Linked DNA regions of Homo sapiens. The protein of the gene in region 1 purifies or fractionates together with the protein of each later gene. This does not show direct contact. Each region holds a gene or a part of one and is shown on either strand. Other genes may lie near its edges.

The links.
Region 2: the proteins of PLCB2 (region 1) and MAP2K6 purify together in Homo sapiens (affinity purification with western blotting, with the first as the bait; one study listed by BioGRID). This does not show direct contact.

Annotation. Positions count from the first base shown.
Region 1 is NC_000015.10:40,301,359-40,305,171, reverse strand, and holds part of PLCB2 (1-phosphatidylinositol 4,5-bisphosphate phosphodiesterase beta-2), read left to right. Parts: intron 1-1,093; coding exon 1,094-1,171; intron 1,172-1,815; coding exon 1,816-1,884; intron 1,885-2,562; coding exon 2,563-2,703; intron 2,704-2,822; coding exon 2,823-2,902; intron 2,903-2,982; coding exon 2,983-3,036; intron 3,037-3,139; coding exon 3,140-3,215; intron 3,216-3,562; coding exon of another isoform or gene 3,563-3,580; exon of another isoform or gene 3,581-3,813. UniProt on the Homo sapiens protein: The production of the second messenger molecules diacylglycerol (DAG) and inositol 1,4,5-trisphosphate (IP3) is mediated by activated phosphatidylinositol-specific phospholipase C enzymes.
Region 2 is NC_000017.11:69,550,541-69,554,522, forward strand, and holds the end of MAP2K6 (dual specificity mitogen-activated protein kinase kinase 6), read left to right. Parts: 3' UTR 1-3,325; downstream 3,326-3,982. UniProt on the Homo sapiens protein: Dual specificity protein kinase which acts as an essential component of the MAP kinase signal transduction pathway.

The DNA.
Region 1 (3,813 bases):
TCACAAAAGCTCTCTAAGTAGAGTTGAAACCCCTCACTAGGCTTAAGGTGGGGGATCAGGCACTCCAACTCTCCCTTGGGGAGGTAAGGGAATGGAGCTCCCAACACAGCTTTCTTAAAATTGGCTTCTCCACAAAAATTTTCCCTTTTCCCTGTACTCTAACCACCTCTGATCTGAGAACATTTTTTGGATCATTCACCTTGTAAATGCTGCATTTGGTCTGTTTTAGTATACGGCAACTATTGTGCCTTGCTGGAAACCTTAATTTTAATATCTTGTTATGTACACATACAAAGACCGTTAAACTAAAAGGTAGCCTATGTGCTCTGTCAGTGAGTGGAACAGGACTTTAGAAGGTGAGTTCATTCATTCATTCATTCATTCATTTGCTCATTCAGCAAACACCACATTCAAGTGCCAAGCACCAAGCACCAAGCTCAAGGTCTAGCACAGGCTTGTTGTCCTGGAGTCCATGAGTCCCTGGGGATTTCCTAGGTGGGCTTGTAGGTCTGTGACTCACATCCCCCCGGTTACTGTAGCACATTTCAGGAAGGGTTTTCAGAAGTTGGGGGGCTTGGGTTGTCCTTGAAGTTATTTCAAGCAGAGGAGATTTGGGCACTTAGGTTTGGAGGTGGGAAGGCTTGGTATCTTTATGGGACAGTTGAATGGACAGGGTAGGAGGTGTTCATGGAGGGAAGAAGGGGCATATGGGAGGTTAGGTTGCATCTGGATTGTGCAGGGCCTTGGATGCTGGTGCAGGAGTTTGGGCTCTTGGCTCTCGCTGTGTCAATCTCTCCTGGGTGGCAGTAGGGAGTCTCGCTCTATGAGATGAGGTAGGGGCCAAGATCCTCTTTAGGGTCTAGAGGGAGAATGTCTATTTGGGCTTTAGAGGGGAAAACCCTTCTCTTCCAGAAATGGCATCCCCAATCCTCTGTCCCTCCTGGTGCTTAGCTCTAGACAACAAAAGGAAATGCCTTCAGATTTCTGGGATGGGCACCTCCTGGGAAGATAATGAGCTCTGAAACCCCTGGCCTGGACCAGGGAGGCTTGGCCTGAGGTCTTGGAACAGAGTGCTGGCTCCTTCTCTCTGCAGGAAACTACAGTTGCCTCTCCAGTTATCCTCCGTGTGGATCCTAAGGGCTACTACTTATACTGGACGTATCAAAGTAAGGTGAGAAAACCCTTGTGTGCCATGGCCCTGGACTCCTGCTTATCATTGAGGCCAGACAGCCCCCTGGCTGCACCAAGGTGGAGGCATGGATGCTGGGGAGTACAGAATGGCCTGGAAGGGTGGCTCCAGAGGCTCCCCTGTAGGCAGGGGCTCTTTGCTCTGGAAAGGAGGATGCAGTCACTCCAACCTGTGGCTACCCAAATGTTCCATCCTTAGCATCCCTTGGGGAGAGAGAGAGACAGGCGAAAGCACTGCTGCTGAAGGCTGATGCTCTGCCTGTGGCTGTGGGTTGACTTGGGGCTCTGGGAGATGAGAGATAGGCCCCAGCCTCTGGGCAGGAGGACGGGAAGGGGAAGCTGGGAAGGGTCCAGGATGGTGGAGGAGACACTGCAGGCTCCAGCTCCCTGCCAGGGAGGAATGGACAGAGGGAAAGGGAGGAGGATCTGCATGAATAGAGAGAACCTGGGCCATAGGAAGGGAAGTTTGGGTCCAGCTGGCCCTGGGCAGCCTGGCATCTAGAGAGAGGTGTTGGCCAAGATTTGAAGGGTGTGGAAGCTCCCTTCTCCCTATTGCTCATTCTTGACCTGGACTTTTTGTCCCACATCCCTTCTTTGCTCCCACCGGGATCCGCACCCTGCCCCCAGGAGATGGAGTTTCTGGATATCACCAGCATCCGGGATACTCGCTTTGGGAAGTTTGCCAAGATGCCCAAGGTAGGTGTGTCCAGTAGCAGCCCAGGCTCAAGCACAGCTACTAGCTCCATGGGGCAAGGGCAGGGGTCCCTGTGCGGGTGGGAAGCCTGACTTCTGAAGCACGGGGAATGGTTCCTTGGCTGGGCAGCAAGGACCGTGGCTGGAAGCCAAGGAAGGGGAGCGGCAGCTCCTGGGCTCGCCTGGGCTCTGAGCTTCAGAACTGCGCACAGTGAGCTGAGATGGCAGGGATCTGGGAGGAGGGGTCACCTCCTGCCCCTAAAGCACCCCAGTCTGTCTGGGAGGGGTGGCTTACACCCCCACCCCCGGACTAGTTTGCCTATATTTGCCTAATGCTGGTAGGAAAATTGGAGGAAGGGATTGGTGGGAAGCGGGGTTTCCTGAGACTGGGAGCTAAGAATCTATCTTCAAACAAAAGTGGCAACCAACACACACAGGACTCCCAGGCCGGCCTCCCCGCCTGCCCGCCATCTTGGCTAACCTTTTCCTCAGGGCCTCTCCTTCCCATCCCAGCCGCTGGAGTCAGGGACAGGAAGATGCTAAGGCCTGTGGTTCCTGGGATGGGGATGGGGTTCTGCCCAGTGGGCCATAGCCCAAGTGGCTGAGGGGAGGGCCAGAGAGAGCCACACTGGGCAGGGAGGGAGCACACCTCCATCCTAACCATACCACCACGTGCTGCAGAGCCAGAAGCTCCGGGACGTCTTCAACATGGACTTTCCTGATAACAGTTTCCTGCTGAAGACACTCACGGTGGTGTCCGGCCCGGACATGGTGGACCTCACCTTCCACAACTTCGTCTCCTACAAGGAGAACGTGGGCAAGGTGTGCCAGGGAGCACTGGGCCTGGGTCTGGGCCCCTGGGATAGCCTGGACTTCCTGAGAGACACAGGCCTGGGCGGGGGTGCTCAGGAGCCTGACCGCTGCTCTCTGTGGTCCTGCAGGCCTGGGCTGAGGACGTACTGGCCCTAGTCAAACATCCGCTGACGGCCAACGCCTCCCGCAGCACCTTCCTGGACAAGATGTAAGTGCCCTCTGCCTGGCCTGAGCCCTGGTGCTGAGCATGCCAGCCCTGGGCCTTGACGGGCTGCTTTCTGCCCCCAGCCTTGTGAAGCTCAAGATGCAGCTCAACTCTGAAGGGAAGATTCCGGTGAAGAAGTGAGCCCCCCAACCCCTCCCCAGGCTTCCAGGGGCTCCCCAAAGCCTTTCTTTCTCAGGCCTGACTCCTCTCTGTACCTGGTACCTTTCTCTGCCCCTTCAGCTTTTTCCAGATGTTTCCTGCTGACCGCAAGCGGGTGGAAGCTGCTCTCAGTGCCTGCCACCTCCCCAAAGGCAAAGTGAGTGGATCTGCACCCCTGCCCATCCCCCAGCATTCTTGTCCCCACCAGAAAGCAACTTGGCCAGGAATGGTGGGTGGGGGAGCAGAGGTGACATCACAGCCCCAGCCAAGAGCCTGGAGAGCCAATCAACCCTGGAGCTGCTGGTTACTGACACTAGGCACAGGGGTGGAGCCAGGGCAAGGGAGTGAGACCCTGAGCTCCAAGCAGGTTTGTCTGTATCCCCTACCCTGGGTGGTGGGGGCGCTGGGGCTGTGGTTGATGGACTGTGTTCAGGGCAGGCAGCAGAAACGGCATGCATTCCCAGTCTAGTGTTGGGAATGGGAGCTGAGCGTGAATGTTTTCAGCCTGGAGGAGCGAGATAAGGTCGGCAGTGGCAGGCGGCAGTCTGCAGGGATCTGGAAGTCTGCAGCGTGTCGAGGGAGAGGAACTGAACCAAAGGCGGAAGCTGCCAAGATGCAGACTTCTGCTCTGTACAGAAAAGCATTTTTCCCTGTCTTTTTAGTTAAATAATTAATTTTTAATTACAAGTTGTAAGCAGGGTCACCCCATGAAGCAACTTGTGTGAATTACAAAAAGGAGCCCTCTGGGCTGATAT
Region 2 (3,982 bases), on another chromosome or scaffold:
GAATTATGGGGAAGGAGTAGTTTTTTATTTTATTTTATTTTTCTGATCTCAAGTTGTTTGTCCTGTTGTATGTTCAATACTTGGGGAGATAAGAGCGAGGTACAGCTGTGGTTTTCAGACCATATTCAGTGGTGCCCCTGAGGGTCTCTTGTGAACAGAAGGGAAAAAGAGTGTGATGAAGGTGAACTCTGCCTATCTGAACCTCTGTCAACCTCCAGTCAGAATATCTGGCTTCTAGTATTGTTCCTTTTAACTGGAAGTCTCTGTGGCCATTAAAAACTTGGGAACGTTGGATTAAATGACCACTTTAGGACTTTAAACAGTCTCAAATATGGGAAATTTTATAGCCAACCACGGCTGTGAGTCCCTGGCTTTTGCCGTACTGAGTATGCTCACAGAGATAGGGAGATAGGTGGCCAGAAGACAGGGTCATTTAATTTTAATTGAGCATAAATCATTTTGAAAGAAAAATGCAAGGAATTGTTGTATGACAGCCATGCATTATAGATCCTTACATGCGACATTTTCCTAAAGTGGTTGAGAATGACCTGATCTTTGTTCACCGTCTCAGTGACAAGGCGTGGAGTGACTGGGCTCTTCATATGCAGTGGAATTTTTGCATCTCTAGGTTTGCAGAGGCAGGAGTTACCGTTTTTGTTCATTGACCTATCAGAAAAAAGCAAATCCTTTGGACAATGTTGACACAGACAGGGGTACGGTCTGAGACTCAAGCTAACAGAGCTACCCCTTGCTGCCTTTTGCAAAGGTGTTGTAGGTGGAGAAGGGTAATGGAAACCTGGTACAGCCTTTAGAAGTTGGAAGCTATGGTGGTGTATCTGTCATGAACTGCACACAAGGGAATGCTTAAACACCAGCTGAGTCATATCAGGTGCCTTGTACACACACATAAAGAGTCTGGTGAATTCTGACAGTGTTCTGTTTGCCACTAGAGCAAATTTAATAGCTGGGGTTTCACAGCAACTGTTTTAGAAAACTATATGTGCCAAAAATTTACATTGGGCAGCAGTTTATAGTGTTCTTGGCCAATCTGCATAAAAGCCACTTGAGGAGGTTTGATTAAGAAAATTGTGTTTATCTCCTGTATTACCTCTGTGTTTGATTTATTCTTTAGTCTCAAATTTATTTTCTGAGTGGACTGATTTTCTATATGAACTGAAATGATGTTTTAATAGAATAATAGGTATTTTTAGAGGAAAAGTATTTTTTTGTGTAATTTGCTTACACAACTAGGACATACTTCCTATGATACTGAATCATCAAATTGAGTCATTTAAAGCTGAAAGAGGTGTTAGGAATGTAGTTTCACATTATTTAAATACATGAACAGTTTTCTATATATTTTGTGAAAATCTTGATGAGACACTAGAATTTCTTTATGGAATTGAACTTTACAAGAATTTTAATAAAAGAGGTGGATTTCTTCAGCTTTCTTTGTGCTTCAGTTTCATAGCTGAAAATGCTGCTTCCGTTTATTAATATGGACTTTGTAAGGAAACACAACAACACGTTTTCTTACCTTCTGTAAATTTTGTGATAGACACATGTTATTTGTATATATGATTGATTGTTTGCCTGTTGCACCCTAAAGTTATTTTCAAACCATGTTTATTGCAAAGAGAGCCTTTGGGCAAGTGGAAAATGCCCTGATGCTAGAATGAGGTAGTTCCATAAGCTAGTTAGGAGCTTGCTACCTCTTCTTGGTACCTGAAATATTCTGAAAGGATATCGGAGAGGTCCTATGCACCCCTGTCTTTCAAAACCCACCTCCAGCACTTCAAAGTAGTGTCTCTGGAGAGTTTAAAATAAAAGAATGAATGCTATTCAGTGGATTCCCTCATTGAGGCTCCCATCTTTCCTGCCAGGTGCAGCTTTTTCTGGTTGGAATCATCTCTTCTTTACGGATTGCCGCATTGTCTCTTTGTGAATGAGGCAGGCTGAACTGTAGAGCATGAAACTCATTAGAAGTTTATAAAGTAAAGACCTGTAAAGCATGTGGGTGGAATGTTTCCATGCTCTTGAGGTGAATATTAAATTTAAATTCTGGCCTTTGGGAACTCTTTGCTTGTGAGCTGAAGAAGGAAAGAAGGAGTTGGGGGTGTATATCTAACTGTGTTTTTCTATATGGAAATATATGAGCATCAAGTGATAACTTCAATAAGGCCTCAGGATTGTATTTAAAATACCTGTTTTGTGGGACAGCATGCCTTTGTTTTCTTTGCCTGTTGGCTTTGGTGGCTCCAAACATTTTCATTTTAGGCTAGCTTTCCTGTCACCCAGGTTGTGTGCATTTTTTTTTTCATTTGAACTATTGTTTATCATTATTAATGATGTTATCTCCAAATCCCAAAGCCAAGGAAATAGCCAGTATGCAGGACTTGCAGTAGATATAAGCATTGGTGTTAACATAGGTTAAGTTTTGTTAGTGTTCCCAGAAATATACTGAATTGAGGGATAATGTAGCTTTAAAGAAATTATGTTTCTTTTTAACATTTGGAGAAGCCACCTGTCCTGGGTCCCTATTCTTGAGAAATTCATCTTTTCATGCAAATAACATTGATGGGGGACAAGACTGGATGATTGACTTCTATCAGTCAGTAGACAAGGAAGTATAATAATTGCCAAAGGTGAGGGTAATTTTGCCTTACAAGTATGTAGGTCATTCTGTGGTGGGATTTCCCATCACATCTAGTAAAAAACAACCTTTTCATTTCCCTCCTTTCTAATCCAAGATCATATTTTTAAAAAGTAGGTTTCTGATGTGCCATGAAATATTTCTGTGAATCTGTGTTTTTGACCAAGGAAACAGCTGAGATATTAAACCATGTGGTTGTTCCACGGTTCATCTGGCTACCGTTCTGGGTCCCCTCTGACCACCTCAAAAAGAAAATGAAATTGGGAGATTAAATCAAGCTTGACCTCCTCTTTTAATGAGGAACTTTCACGTTGACTTCCTATCTCAGGATATTCTTCAGTTTCATACTGCTGAGGAGAAAGGAACAAGCTGCAGACACTGTAACTGGTCTCCAGATGTGTGTATATGCGTGTAAAACTTCACACCGTGTGTGTTGTGTTCAATGTTGTGTCAATCTACAAACTGACTCAAACAACAGTTTAACGATAGAGAAGACAGTGATAATGGCAAAAAAAACACCCAACCACCTTTTTCCGTCAAAGTGCTTGCTATGGCTTTCATAGCTGGGACAAGTAACATTAAGTATTCAGGAGCAAAGTGTTCTTGAAAGAAAATGGTGTGTTGATCTCATAAGAAAATGTACAACCAATAAAAGACATTTTAAAAAGCGTAGTGAGTCTGTACATTAATTGAGTTGTTGGAAACCCTATATTCCAGGAACATGGTATAAAAGGCTCTCCCGGTAAAAGCTTTCCTGGACTATATATTCTTGTTATTCTTTCTCTATGCTTTTCCTATTTCTACCACCGCACTTCCCAAACAGACTAGAACAAAACCTAACAACACAACAGTATTGCAGTCGTATTAGTCTGTTTTCATGCTGCTGATAAAAACATAACTGAGACTGTGCAATTAACGAAAGAAAGTGGTTTAATGTACTCACAGTTCCACGTGGCTGGGGAGGCTTCACAATCACAGTGTAAGACGAAAGGCATGTCTCAACATGGTGGTAGACAAGAGGAGAGAGAGAGCCCAGCAAAAGGGTAACCCCTCATAAGACCCTCAAATCTCTTGAGACTTACTCACTCTCATGAGAACAGTATGAGGGAAACTGCCTCCATGATTCAATTATCTCCCACTGGGTCCCTCCCACAACACATGGGAATTATGGGAGCTAAAATAATTTGGGTGGGGACACAGCCAAACCATATCAGCCGCCCTGAAGACTCATTAGAAAATCATTTCAAGGCCAAGCGTGGTGGCTCACACCTGTAGTCCTAGCACTTTGGGAGGCAGAGGCAGGCAGATTGCCTGAGCTCAGGAGTTTGA